Homo sapiens: one gene and its partners. The protein of the gene in region 1 purifies or fractionates together with the protein of each later gene. This does not show direct contact. Each region holds a gene or a part of one and is shown in the gene's direction. Other genes may lie near its edges.

Region 1 (4,035 bases):
CTCACTCTGTTGCCCTAGCTGGAATGCAGTGGTGCAATCATGGCTCACTGAAGCCTCAACCTCCTGAGCTTAAGCAATCCTCCCGCCTCAGCCTCCCAACGTGCAGGGATTACATGCATGAGCCACCACGCCCAGACTAAATATGTGTTAAACTAAAGCAGAAGCATCATTACCCGAGTAGGCTCTATAGGAGGAAAGAGGAGACAAGTGAGGAAAGGAGAGAGAATGAAAAAAAGAGACTTAAATTGTAAGCATTGAAGGTTAGGATGGGAAGGCGATTCGCATTTAAATCTCAGGACCCCATTTAGGCTTCTACCTCCCTGACCGCTGGGAGGCTGGTTGCTTTTCACCCCTCTGGGTTCACTTCTATTTGTCTGTGAGCTGTCAGCATCCTTCCCCACTTGTCTTGCCCTGCCTCTGCCAGGGAGGCAGAGTTGGGAGTCGTGGCACAGGCATGCACGCTGTGCAGCCTCCCACACCTGCACCCTGAAAGACCAACAGACACCCTAAGAAACCTGATACACAAGCACAAACTGATAAGATACCCAAAAAGTCAAAGGCAGACAGCAAAACATGGCTAATATTACACAGTACTGCAAGAGAAAGTAACACCAAAACAAAACAAAACACAGACATCATCTCTCAGTTCCTTCTCAAATAAAAAAAAAAGGCCAGGTGCAGTGGCTCACACCTGTAATCCCAGCACTTTTGGAGGCCGAGGTGGGCGGATCACTTGAGGCCAGGAGTTTGAGACTAACCTGGCCAACCATGGCCAACATGGTGAAATCCCCCTATCTCTACTAAAAATATAAAAAATTAGCCGGGCGTGGTGGCTGGCACCTGTAATCCCAGCTACTGAGAGGCTGAGGCAGGAGAACTGCTTGAACCTGGGAGGTGGAGGTTGCAGTGAGCTAAGATTGTACCACTGCACTCCAGCCTGGGCAACAGAGTGTGACTCTGTCTCAAAAAAAAAAAAAAAAAAAGGGTGGGTGAGGTGGTGGCTCACACCTGTAGTCCTAGCACTTTGGGAGGCCAAGGTGGAAGGCTCTCTTGAGGCTAGGAATTCGAGACCTGCCTGGACAACAGACAGAAACACTGTCTCTACAAAAAATAAAAAAACTAGCTAGGTGTGGTGGTGTGTGCCTGTAGTCCCAGGTACTTGGGAACCTGAGCAGGAGGACTGCTTGAGACCAGGGAGCTGGGCCTGCAGTGAACCATGGTTATGCCCCTGCACTCCAGATAGGGTGAAATGGGTAGTTTTTCACTTGATCTCCTCCTCATTGTCTCTTACGTTTAAACAAGTCTCAAACCTGGTGCAGAGGTGCATGTACCTCCATTGCTGGACAAGGCCTGACTTTTGCCTGCTGGTAGGGCCTCCTCAGTTCTAACCAGCCTTCTGTGACCTCATTCTCTATCCTGGTTCCATTTTCCACTTTGTGACTTCATCAGTTAAAGATCCCATTTCAGCCACCAAGGTTGAGAGGCCCCAAGACCCAGTTCCTTTACAGAATCAACCCTGGGGTGGCTTTAGGACTGGGCTCTTTGGAGCTCATCCTTGGACCCACAGTGGAGTGCTGGTCCGTGCTGATGTCTTCAGATACCAATCAATGGGCATTTGGCTCCTTGCTTCCACTGACCTCTTGAGTACTTTCAACGATCGGTGTCAGGAGTGCCCCAGCTGCTGTTTCTAGAGCATCTCTGCAACCCACGGTGGCCTCTCCTCTCTCTGCGGGCCATGGACAGCACAGTCCCTTCAGCCCTGGAGCTGCCCCAGCGGCTGGCACTGAACCCAAGGGAGAGCCCGAGGAGTCCAGAAGAGGAGGAGCCCCACCTGCTGAGCAGCTTGGCTGCAGTCCAGACCCTGGCCAGTGTCATCCGGCCTTGCTATGGCCCCCACGGCCGGCAGAAGTTCCTGGTGACCATGAAAGGAGAAACAGTGTGCACGGGGTGTGCCACTGCCATCCTCAGGGCCCTGGAGCTGGAGCACCCAGCAGCATGGCTCCTCCGGGAAGCAGGACAAACCCAGGCAGAGAATAGTGGGGACGGCACAGCCTTCGTGGTTCTGCTGACGGAAGCCTTGCTGGAACAGGCAGAGCAGCTGCTGAAGGCTGGCCTGCCTCGCCCGCAGCTCCGGGAGGCCTACGCCACGGCCACTGCAGAGGTCCTGGCCACACTGCCCTCCCTGGCCATCCAATCTCTGGGGCCTTTGGAAGATCCATCCTGGGCCCTCCATTCTGTGATGAATACCCACACCCTGTCCCCCATGGACCACTTGACCAAGCTGGTGGCCCACGCCTGCTGGGCTATCAAGGAACTAGACGGCAGCTTCAAGCCTGAGCGTGTTGGGGTGTGCGCGCTGCCCGGGGGGACACTGGAGGATTCCTGCCTCCTCCCGGGGTTAGCAATATCTGGGAAGCTCTGTGGGCAAATGGCCACAGTGTTAAGTGGTGCCAGGGTGGCTCTCTTTGCTTGCCCCTTTGGTCCTGCCCATCCAAATGCACCAGCAACGGCCCGTCTTTCTAGTCCTGCTGATCTAGCTCAATTTAGTAAAGGAAGCGATCAATTACTAGAAAAGCAAGTAGGCCAGCTAGCAGCTGCAGGAATTAATGTGGCAGTGGTGTTGGGGGAGGTCGACGAGGAGACCCTCACACTGGCGGACAAGTATGGCATCGTGGTGATTCAAGCTAGGTCTTGGATGGAGATCATTTACCTGAGTGAGGTGTTGGACACACCTCTGCTGCCTCGTCTGCTCCCTCCCCAGAGGCCAGGCAAGTGCCAGAGGGTTTACAGGCAGGAGCTGGGAGATGGTTTGGCTGTGGTATTTGAATGGGAATGTACAGGCACACCTGCCCTCACTGTGGTTCTCAGGGGAGCCACCACCCAGGGGCTGCGGAGTGCAGAGCAGGCCGTCTACCACGGCATTGATGCCTATTTCCAGCTATGTCAAGATCCCAGACTGATTCCAGGAGCTGGGGCCACAGAAATGGCTTTGGCAAAAATGCTTTCTGATAAAGGAAGCAGATTGGAAGGGCCCAGTGGGCCTGCATTCCTAGCATTTGCCTGGGCCCTGAAGTATCTTCCTAAAACTTTGGCAGAGAATGCAGGCTTAGCTGTCTCAGACGTGATGGCAGAAATGAGTGGAGTGCACCAAGGTGGGAACCTCCTAATGGGTGTGGGAACTGAAGGGATAATAAATGTGGCCCAGGAAGGGGTGTGGGACACCCTAATAGTCAAAGCCCAAGGATTTCGAGCAGTGGCTGAGGTGGTGCTACAGCTCGTGACTGTAGATGAAATCGTAGTGGCCAAGAAAAGTCCCACACATCAGGAGATCTGGAATCCTGACTCTAAGAAGACAAAGAAACACCCACCTCCTGTGGAAACAAAAAAAATCCTTGGATTGAATAACTAGTGATACCCTCAATAAAACAGGGATTGCCAAGAAGGGAACAATCACCCCAAAAATGAATGTTTGCCTTTATTCCGTGTTTGGTACTTGATTCACTTTCTTTAAATAAAAACATGAAGGAACATAAAATTTCTTTTCATGCGCTTAGTTCCTTTCCAGTTCTCGACTTTTTTTGTTTTTTTTTTTTGAGAGACGGAGTCTTGCTCTGTTGCCCAGGCTGGTGTGCAGTGGCGTGATCTTGGCTCACTGCAACCTCCGCCTCCCAGGTTCAAGCGATTTTCCTGCCTCAGCCTCCTGAATAGCTGGGACTACAGGTGCGCGCCACCACGCCCAGCTATTTTTTGTATTTTTAGTAGAGACGGGGTTTCACCATATTGACCAGGCTGGTCTCGAACTCCTGACCTCATGATCCTCCCGCCTCAGCCTCCCAAAGTGCTGGGATTACAGGCGAGAGCCACTGTGCCCAGCCAGTTCTTGACCTTTTCATTTTGTGTTTCTATCAGATGCTCTTCCTTTCCTATGATAAGAGCAGGATTCAATTCTATTAAGATTTTTAAACTGAGTACCTATGTGGGCTTTGGGCGTGCAAAACACAGTGCAGCAATCTCTTCCCAACTATTTGAGCATTC
Region 2 (4,003 bases), on another chromosome or scaffold:
CAATGGATAGAAGACGGCAGCGCGGGTGTCAGACCTGCCAATTTCCAACTGCACACCAAATCCCCGAACATATGCTTGAGGCCCCTGCCTTTCGGTTTCATAAATAAAACCCTGTCCTGACTACCTCCAGGATTGGATGGAAACTCGGATGAGTAAATATGGTAGAACGACTTTGCAAACTAGCACCCTATTCACACGTAAGGGGTTGCTCTTGTCACCGAGACTGTTAGAGGCAACGTGAGTTAACAGAAATAGCTTGGATTTTGAAGCTAATGGAATCTAGATCCATTCCTAACCAGCAGTGTGACCTTATTGTGTAATCTTTCTGAACCTGTCTCCATCCATCTCTACAAAGAATGTGGCACAATGTAGGAACTCAGTGAATTTTCGTGATTAAAAGACGAGATAATACAGGTGCACAATCTGCAAAACATAAAATACTCCATAAATGGAAGCAGTAAATCTTCCCCGAGCTCGAGACTCCAAAGGCCCTGAGCCCAGTACCAGTAACAGCACCCAGGTAAGTAGGCTGGCTGAGAGAAGAGGGCTATAAAGAAAAGTTCTTTCCTGAGCTTTGAATCCCCACTGTCAGGCTTCAATGGAGCGCAAAAATTCCTAAATTTGGTGAGAAATGGCAACATTACCAGGGAATGAACAGACCAGGCCACTCACATCCACGTGAGGGCTCCAGGAGCCACTTCCGGGCCCAGTCAACCACGACCAGGAGAGGCAGCGCTGGAGCCTCAATCACGTCGACGGAAAACAAGTGCGCTCCCTACTGCAGTCACCAGGAGGCGCTAGTCCCGCCTGTCTCCCGGCACGGGTCCTCGTTTGCGCACGCGTCATTTCTTTCCTCCAGCGTCCCCGCCCCTTCTCCTCCGGCCGCCACCAGTTTCGCTTGGCCAGTTGCGTTCGTGCGGCGACGTCCACGCATTTTCTGACGTAGCGAGCGACGGCGGGGAGCCGAGCGGAAGTCCAGCACTATTGCCGCTAGAGGAGGGGAGGGGTGAGAAGCATAAGTGGCACCGGAAGTGGAATTAATCCGCCTACCTCTCCTGCGCCTGCGAAACAGAAAAGACAAGGCGCCTGTCGGGCGGGGTGTGGCTTCGGGTGGCGGAGAACGCTGCGATTGGCCCTCGGCTGTGGCGACAGCGACGATTGGTCCCTGCGTGCAGAGCGCGGTGAGAGTGGGTGGTGGCCGTTGGAATTCAAAAGTGGCGGGTGTGGCGCGGGGCTGGTAGCGGCCGGAGCCGTGCGAGTTCTCTACCCTGCTTCGCGAGCGGGCGAGAGAACGCGAGTCCCAGGATCCCCGGCACCCAGTTCTCTTCCACTGCATTCCCCCGGCGCGTGTGGGACCGAGGTGGACATGGATCCGCAGGTGAGTAGGGGCGGCGCAGGTGTCCTGCCCTGGGGATGGGGACGAAGGCTGACCGCTCCGATGCTGTCGCGCCCCCGGCTCCCGGTCGGCCTTTGTCATGTCTACCGGGAGAGCGAAGGTCCGTGCGCCCCCGCACAAGTGGAAAGGGGCGGAGGCAGGAGTGGAGACGGCTTAGAGCACCCGGGGAGGTCGGAAGGCACGTCTGTCTGCCCTCCCCTAGCTTCAAGTTTCTGGAGCCCCTCCCTTAACTTTCATGTCTCCGAGATTTCTCATTTCGAATTCTCAGGCTCGTCTGACACATTTCCACTTCTTTATTCCTACTCAGGGTGTGATTGCAGTGTGTAAGAAGGGAGAGTTCTGATATGACTTCTTCCTTTTGGGGACATGGTGTCTGAGGCCACATCCTTGCTGAGGTCCTTTTGTGTTAATCGCCTCTCCTTATCACTGCTGCTTCGGAGTGTAGGAAAGGGAGAAGGAGAGTAGGGTAATCTGGGCCAAAAGACTTCTCATTCTCTCTCTCCTTTCCCAAATTGTGCAGATTCCTGCCCAATGAAACTGATTGATTTAGTTCTTTCTCTTAAATGGTGCCCTGCTGCACCCCACAACCATATGCAGCTTCCTGTCTCCAGTGAAGAGAGATGAATGTGTGTGACAGCTGGAGTGTACTTATCTCTGGTGCCAGGAAAGGTCTGCCTGAATCCTTTGTTTACTAGTATTTCACGTTCAGGTTTCCCTGAAGTTAGGATTCAGCCTTAAGAGAGATTCTTTCTCTCGTGACAACCAGAGAGCAGAGTAGTATTATGTGACAGTAAGAAGTAGTAAAAGCCTTCTCAGATCTATTAATCAAGTATTTATTGAGCACCTACTACATGCTAGGCGTGGTTGTAGGTACTTAGGATGCAGCAGTGAACAAGGGACAAATCGTTGCCATCGTGGAGCTGCCATTCTATGGGGATACAGACAATAAATGTAATAAATGAATTATATAACTGCCAGAAGGCCGTAAGTGCTGTGGAGAAAAGGAGAAATTCAAGGTTGAGGACATAGGGGAGGCCAACTGGCGGGTTAGAGTATTAAATAGGGTGGTCTCAGTAACCCCCATGGAAAAGATGAGTTGAATAAAGACTTGAAGGAAGTGAGGGAGACAGACAAGCAGATAGTGAGGGAAGAACATTTCAGGCAGAGGGAATCTGCTAGAGCAGAGTCCCTAAAGAGTTGTAAGGAGGGAAGTGTGGCTGGAATGAAGTGAGCAAGGGGAAAAGTTGTGGGAAAGGAAGTCAGGTAATGGGTAGTGGGGTTGCTGATCACAGTTTGTCCTTGTGGGGGTCGTTGTGAGGACTTTTACTCTGAGTGAGATGGGGAATCATTGGATGATTTTAAGCAGAGAGATAAGATTTGTTGGGTCCACCAGATTTTCGTAACCATAGCACCATTGCCTTTTTTTTTTTTTTTTTTTTTTTGAGACAGGTTCTCTTTCTCTGTTCCCAGGCTGGAGTGCAGTGGCATGATCATGGCTCACTGGAGCCTTAACTTCCTGGGCTCAAGTGATCCTCCCACCTCAGCCTCCTGAGTAGCTGGGACTACAGGCAGCTGCCACCATGCCTGGCTGATTTTTTGTATTTTTAATAGAGACAGGGTTTTGCCATGTTGCCCAGGCTGGTCTGGAACTAACTCCTGGGCTCAAGCAATTCGCCTGCCTCGGCCTCCGAGAGTGCTGGGATTACAGGCATGAGCCACCGTGCCCTGCAACATTTTTTTTTTTTTTTTTGAGAAGTAGTCACGCTCTGTCGCCAGCCTGGAGTGCAGTGGCGCGGTCTCGGCTCACTGCAACCTCCGCCTCCCGGGTTCAGGCGATTCTCCTGCCTCAGCCTCCCGAGTAGCTGGGACTACAGGCGCCTGCCACCACGCCCGGCTAATTTTTTGTATTTTTAGTATAGACAGGGTTTCACCGCGTTAGCCCGGATGGTCTCAATTTCCTGACCTCATGATCCTCCCACCTCGGCCTCCCAAAGTGCTCGGATTACAGGCATGAGCCACTGCACCTGGCCAACATTTTTTATTGTCGTGACTAGGTGGGGGGTTGCTACTGGCATCTAGTGGGTAGAGGGCAGGGATGCTGCTAGGCATCTGACAGTGTACAGGACTGCATTGGACATTGTCAAATGTCACCTTGGGGATAAAATCACCCCCAGTTGAGAACCACTGGTTTATGATAATCTAGGTGCCAGATGATGGTGTCTTAGGTCAGGGTGATAGCAGTGGAAGAAACAGTAAAAAGTGATTGGATTCTGGATATATTTTGAAGGTACAATCAGCCATGCTTTGCTGACAGATTAGATGTGGTATGTAGGAGAAAGAGAGGACTCTGGGTTTTTGGCTTGAGCAACTGAAAGATGGAGTTATATCAATTGAGATGGAGAAAGCTGCAAAAGGAGCAAGTTCAAAGCAGGGTTGGACATCAAGAGGTCAGTTATTAGACTTCCAAATGGAGATTTTTTTTGATACGGAGTCTCTCACTCTGTTGCCCAGGCTGGAGTGCAGTGGTGTGATCTCAGCTCACTGCAACTTCTACCTCCCAGCTTCAAGCAATCCTCCCACCTCAATCTCCCGAGTAGCTGGGATTAC
Region 3 (2,657 bases), on another chromosome or scaffold:
CTCCTGCCTCAGCCTCCCGAGTAGCTGGGACTACAGGCACCTGCCACCATGCCCGGCTAAATTTTTGTATTTTTAGTAGAGACGGGGTTTCACCGTGTTAGCCAGGATGGTCTTGATCTCCTGACCTCGTGATCTGCCCGCCTCGGCCTCCCAAAGTGCTGGGATTATAGGCATGAGCCACTGTGCCTGGCCACATCTTGCTTTTTTTTTTATGATCAGAACAAAGGGCCCACTCTAGTTCTCTACATGTCAATCAATCAAGCATGTTGAATAAGGGACATAGAGGATTTAACTTTTGTTATCATAAATGGAACTTGCAGGCATATATCAAGAACCCTATGAAGAATTCCTCTCCCATCATTTTGATAAAGAACTACATCATTTTTGATAGAATTGGTGAATGTTCCTAAACTGCTGAAGCTACATGTTTTTTGTTTTGTTTTACAAAGTCAGGTGTTTGAGAGTTCTTTTCCACTCTACTACTACTCATAGAGCTTGTTTTTTCTTTGGGTGTGTGCTGATCCTGTTACTGAGATTAATTACATGGCTCTGCAGTGTAGTTTACATAAAAATGATGTTTTCCACTTGATTGCTGCAGATATCAAGAGTTTGTTATTTTCAAATACCCATCCAACAAGAGAGATGGGGAGGTTTTTAGTTATATATGCTATATATATATATATAACTGGAAATGTTTTATATGTTTTCCGAAAATACAATAAGCCTCTCTTTTATTCAGTGTTCTTCCTCTTTTCTCCCTTATGAAAAAGAAAAGATAGCACAAAACTTAAGACTTACCTAGGAAACCCATTCATATTCCCACCATGATGTAATTATAACCCTACAATTACTTCAGGTAGCTACACAATATACCAGGTAAGAATCAATGCACAGTATAAAGAACTTATTGTTCTTTTCTATTCTTTCAGTTGAATAAGGGCCAGTTGGTATGCAGCCCATGTATATGTGAATGGAGTAAGATAAACCCCATGATCTCCTTGCACAGAATTGCAAATGTCTTTTGCCATACCAAGGGCCAGACTCAGAACCCTTGGAGTCATGTGGCAGAATTTCCCTCTTACATAAACCAATGCTTGAAAATGCTGCAAATGACCCTCTAATGATCCCTGAAGATCAAAACAGGGGTAAATGACTCCCTGCAAAACCCAACCCATGCTGCTGGCTGTGGGATTTTTGGTGTAAGCCTATCTATGCACTCTATCAGCCAGAATTTGGCATTTAGCTCTTAGTTAAATCTAGTAAAGGACAGTCTATTGTTTAAAGAGAAGGTGCATTTGTTCCTCAATCAAGCAAGAGCACCTGTGTTGTACTGCTTTATATCTCATGTATATTTATAGTAATGAAAAGACTTTTTAAATTGTACACGTTTCAGTGCCTTTCTTGTGTTATGAAAGGCAGGTAGATATTATAGCCATAGGTAAAAATCCATAGTTAAATTGCACACTGACCTTAAATCTCTCTGTGTATGCCCTTGTATCTTGCATGTTAAAAGTTGGATTATTGGGCATGTGTGGCAGCCTGCCCTGCTACATGCTAGACAAGTGTGCTTTAGTACATAGCCACAAGTTCTTCATTCTTTAAAATGTTTTGACAGATCATCTCATAATAAAAATAATTCAGGAAAACTATGGGGAAATAGTTACATTTCACAAAAGATATTTTAAACTCTTTGTAAAACTTAGATAATAGAGCCTAGCAGTTACTTTGTATCTAATTGATACATTTTATGTTAATTTACCACCATACATTTTATTAATCAAAATTGTATAGCATGTGACTCTTTTGGCTTTCAGAGTTCTCAAAAATATTATTTTGTTGCATGTACTGTATGTTTAGAGGCAACCAATTATATACTCAATATGGTTTTACTGTGCCTTACACAAAGAGAAACTCTATACAGAATGTATATCATGGGGTGGGGTAACAGAGTCTTTACTGCACTGTTAGGTGATGGCACACAGAGCATGTCCCAGAACATTTCTGTGCTTAATTACCCAACCAAAGAGATCTGAAGTATGTATGTCGTACTGTAATGGGGGTTTATGCCTGGACAATTAAGTGTTTTATTTGTTTTCTGAAATGATGTGAACTTATTTTTCTAAACACTATGCTAAATAAACTTTATATTTATACATACCTTGCATTGAAAATTATTTGGGAAATATTGTGTTTTTTTAAATATGAATGACTCATCTTACTAGAAAAGAAAAAAGAAATAATGTTGGTTTTATTTATCTCTGGAAAAGGGAAGAAGAGGAAGGGAAAAAACAAACATTCCAAAAGCTGGCAAATGGTTATAAGGCCAATTGGAGTGATTTTGGAAAAATAATCTTTGTCAGTCGTTGTGCAGAATTATGCAATTAACTGTACTACATAGAGGTAAATTATTAGATTGCATCCTCCTTAAAAGGAAGAAGTGTACCTTCCCCTTCCCAGCATTTTTTGTTTTTTGTTTTTTGTTTTTTTGTCCCTAGAGATGAGTGTGATGTTTGGCACACGGCAGTTACTCTGTAGGGTTTAATGGAATTAAATTGAAGGGTCCAAAGACCTCCTATTTTCAACCTTATTGAAAGAGTTCAATATCACCCATCCCTAGGGCACTGCCATTAGCCAAAGTCTGGTACCACCACGGTTGG
Region 4 (3,500 bases), on another chromosome or scaffold:
AAAATTAGCACGATGTGGTGGTACGCGCCTGTAGTCCCAGCTACTCAGGAGGTTGAGGAAGGAGAATTGCTTGAGCCTGGGAGGCAGAGGTTGCAGTGAGCCAAGATTTGTGCCATTGCACTCCAGCCTGGGCAACAAGAGCAAAACTCCGTCTCAAAAAAAAAAAATGCCGGGCGCGGTGGCTGTAATCCCAGCACTTTGGGAGGCTGAGATGGGCGGATCACAAGATGGGCGGATCACGAGGTCAGATCAAGACCATCCTGGCTAAACGGTGAAACCCCATCTCTACTAAAAATACAAAAAATTAGCTGGGCATGGTGGTGGCGCCTGTAGTCCCAGCTACTCAGGAGGCTGAGGCAGGAGTATGGTGTGAACCTGGGAGGCGGAGCTTGCAGTGAGCCAAGATCGTGACACTGCACTCCAGCCTGGGTGACAGAGCGAGACTGTCTCAAAAAAAAAAACAAAAAAAAAAAACTGGAACCCTGTCTCAAAAAAAAAATACAGATTTCTCCTAGTTGCCAAGCCTACAGCAAGATAACATTTTTTGGTACAGCATTTCCCAGTAAGCAGTGTCACTGCTTTATTTATAAGCCTTTTAAATTCAAAATAGATAAGTAAACCCAACACCAACTCTGTGGCTGAAATACCGCTTTTTATAAATTACAAGTTTCTTACAACTAAGTTCCCTTATGGGCATACTCACTTTTTCAGAAAAAAATACCTACCAGGCAGTGAGATGCTTCATCTTAATGTCTTAAACCGACTTTTTAAGCTGTGGGTAGGCACTTAGAAGAATGGGTTTTTCTTTCCCCCAAGCTGCCGCTTGATTCTTTTTTATGTTTTCTATAGACTAATGACCCCAGTGGTGGCTGCATTTCCAAATCTTTATGTCTTTGTTTTTCTGAGATTGTTGAGCCACTCATCCAGGAGGCAGGGAAACCATTAATGGCTGGCTTCTGGACACATCTGTTATGAAGTGTGAAGCAGAGTTAACTCAGGAAGTTCCCAAAGAACTGAATTTTGGCCCATAGAGAGTTTATGAAATGAACAGAGAAACAAGATGTCTCTTCCCAGTCTTAGGTATCTGTGGGCATCCATTTTAATACCTGGTTTCTTCAGAATTAGCCTGTGACACTTTTCTGTATTTCTGAAATATTTTTCTAACATGTGCTTCTCTCTAAAAGACCTGGTTTGTAGTAACTGTATGTGTTTTTTGTTTGTCTGTTTTTGAGATGGAATCTCGCTCTCGCCATGCTGGAGTGCAGTGGTGCGATCTTGGCTCACTGCAACCTCTGCCTCCCGGGTTCAAGCGATTCTCCTGCCTCAGCCTCCCGAGTAGCTGGGATTACAGGCACGTGCCACTACGTCCAGCTAATTTTTTGTATTTTTAGTAGAGTCGGGTTTTCACCATGTTGGCCAGGTTGGTCTCGATCTCTTGACCTCGTGATCTGCCCTCCTCGGCCTCCTAAAGTGTTGGGATTACAGGCGTGAGGCACCATGCCCAGTGTGTACTAACTGTTTTAAATTAAGCAAGTGATAAAGAATTTGCTGGTTTTAAGCCACCACAAAAGATGGTTTAAAACAATTTAGCAATAAAATTTGGACAAAAAATAATTGATTTGGTCTTAATTTATATCAGAAGTGACTTCTAAGTCTGTAGTTGGCTTCACAATATGCAGATTATTAGCATAGCAGAGAGAGCAGGGGACACCATAGTCATTGCTTCATAGTGAGCAGCAATTCTATCTTGAGTATGATAAGGCCTAGAAGGTTTTTTTGAAATACTTTTCATTTTCGGCCCCAATTAGACTTTGGTACTTCATATAGAATATTTTGAGACTTCTAAGTTAGAGTAACGTACCCAGTTTCAAAATTTCTAGGGGTTACTCTTTGATTTTGGTAGATTTCACTCTTTCTCCTTTTATTTTCCATTTTTTTATAGTTAACGTTGATTTTGGATTAGAATAATAAATGAGGCAGCATTTTATTACATTTGGATTAGTTGACTTGCCATTTACAGATGATATTGGTATTACAGAGTAACAGCCTTTGTTAATTAGAAAACTGGATTTGCATATATTAAATTTTAATTCCTGGTGCTTTGTCTTTTGTTTTTGCTGTTTTGGGTTTTAGAACTACTTTATATCCTGCGAAATTGTGTTAGATTTGGATTATTAAATTGATAAATTTTTACCATATTATGGGAAGCATTTCTGATCTCATTAGAAACCATACATATTCTCAGCTGCCCAGGTTTTACTGATTTTATTTTCTCATTAAAGACAAACTTCTGTTTTAAGGAACTTGGGAAAGTTGATATGAATTTCTAATTTAATGTATTAGGTCATTAAAATAATTTTTGAGTTCCCTTAGACACATACAGGCTTTTCATTTTTTTCAAAAGTACCCTCCTTAAAGTCTGTAACAGTTAACATTTTTGAGTACCTTTGCCCAGGTACGTTGCAGGCAGGGGTGGAGTGGGGGCATGCATTGGTCGAGTCACATATCATTACTGTATTTAGTTTGGGGAGTATACAGAAACTTAAGGTTTTTTTGTTTTTGTTTTTGTTTTTGTTTTTGTTTTAAAGAATACCGTAGCAGTAGGCAGGACAGTTCCAATTCAACAAAAACCTCTTTACCCTGGCACTCAAAACTGTAATGATGATGAACTGGTAAGCATTTTTCTGTTTTCAGATGTTCAACATCAAAATGAGAAAAGCACTAACACTTGATTTAAAAATAATTGATTGCTAGTATTTCTCTAATTTTCATCTTGAAGTTCATTACTGAACTGTTGTTAAGTCTTATCAGAATTATGCCAGATTAGACTCATAGTCAAAATGTCCTGTTAAAAACTGGGAAAATCAGAGAGTACTTATTTTGCCTGCCTGCTTTAAGTATTCAAAATATAGTAGATATGTGCTCGGCTCAGTGGCTCACGCCTATAATCCCAGCACTTTGGGGTGCCAAGGCAGGAGGATGGCTTGAGTCCAGGAGTTTGTGAGCAGCCTTGGCAACATAGTGAGACCTAGTCTCTACAAAAAAATTTTAAAAATTAGTTGGGCATAGTGGCGCACTCCTGGAGTCCCTTCCTCTTGAGAAGCTGAGGTGAGAGGATCACTTGAGCCCAGAAGGTTGAGGCTATGGTGAATCGTGAGTGCACTGCAGTCAATGAACCATGAGTGCACTGCACTCCAGCCTGCGCGACAGAGTAAGACTCTGTCTTAAGAAAAGGAAGGAAGGATGGATGGATGGATATATCAAGCCATATGCACATGAAAGCAGGTGTGTGTCTGTGTGTGTACACACTAGATGAGGATATCTATGCACCTTTTTTGTCAGATGGGTAGGTTTTATGATCCTATCATCAGTGGAATTAGTAAATATTACAAGTTGTACGTGTTTTGACTTTGACTTAAATTTTTTTTTCCAATAGAAACTATGTTCCAACTTCCTGTCAACAATCTTGGCAGTTTAAGAAAAGCCCGGAAAACTGTGAA

What was found. Proteins that work in one complex are often made in the same cells at the same time.
Region 2: the proteins of CCT8L2 (region 1) and KIFC1 purify together in Homo sapiens (affinity purification with mass spectrometry; one large-scale study listed by BioGRID and IntAct). This does not show direct contact.
Region 3: the proteins of CCT8L2 (region 1) and SIX4 purify together in Homo sapiens (affinity purification with mass spectrometry; one large-scale study listed by BioGRID and IntAct). This does not show direct contact.
Region 4: the proteins of CCT8L2 (region 1) and ADNP purify together in Homo sapiens (affinity purification with mass spectrometry; one large-scale study listed by BioGRID and IntAct). This does not show direct contact.

Annotation. Positions count from the first base shown.
Region 1 is NC_000022.11:16,590,251-16,594,285, reverse strand, and holds CCT8L2 (T-complex protein 1 subunit theta-like 2), read left to right. Parts: upstream 1-1,475; 5' UTR 1,476-1,735; coding exon 1,736-3,409; 3' UTR 3,410-3,535; downstream 3,536-4,035. UniProt on the Homo sapiens protein: Possible molecular chaperone; assists the folding of proteins upon ATP hydrolysis.
Region 2 is NC_000006.12:33,390,620-33,394,622, forward strand, and holds the start of KIFC1 (kinesin-like protein KIFC1), read left to right. Parts: upstream 1-1,203; 5' UTR 1,204-1,366; coding exon 1,367-1,378; intron 1,379-4,003. UniProt on the Homo sapiens protein: Minus end-directed microtubule-dependent motor required for bipolar spindle formation. May contribute to movement of early endocytic vesicles. Regulates cilium formation and structure.
Region 3 is NC_000014.9:60,709,039-60,711,695, reverse strand, and holds the end of SIX4 (homeobox protein SIX4), read left to right. Parts: 3' UTR 1-2,157; downstream 2,158-2,657. UniProt on the Homo sapiens protein: Transcriptional regulator which can act as both a transcriptional repressor and activator by binding a DNA sequence on these target genes and is involved in processes like cell differentiation, cell migration and cell survival.
Region 4 is NC_000020.11:50,903,938-50,907,437, reverse strand, and holds part of ADNP (activity-dependent neuroprotector homeobox protein), read left to right. Parts: intron 1-2,588; 5' UTR 2,589-2,672; intron 2,673-3,436; coding exon of another isoform or gene 3,437-3,441; coding exon 3,442-3,500.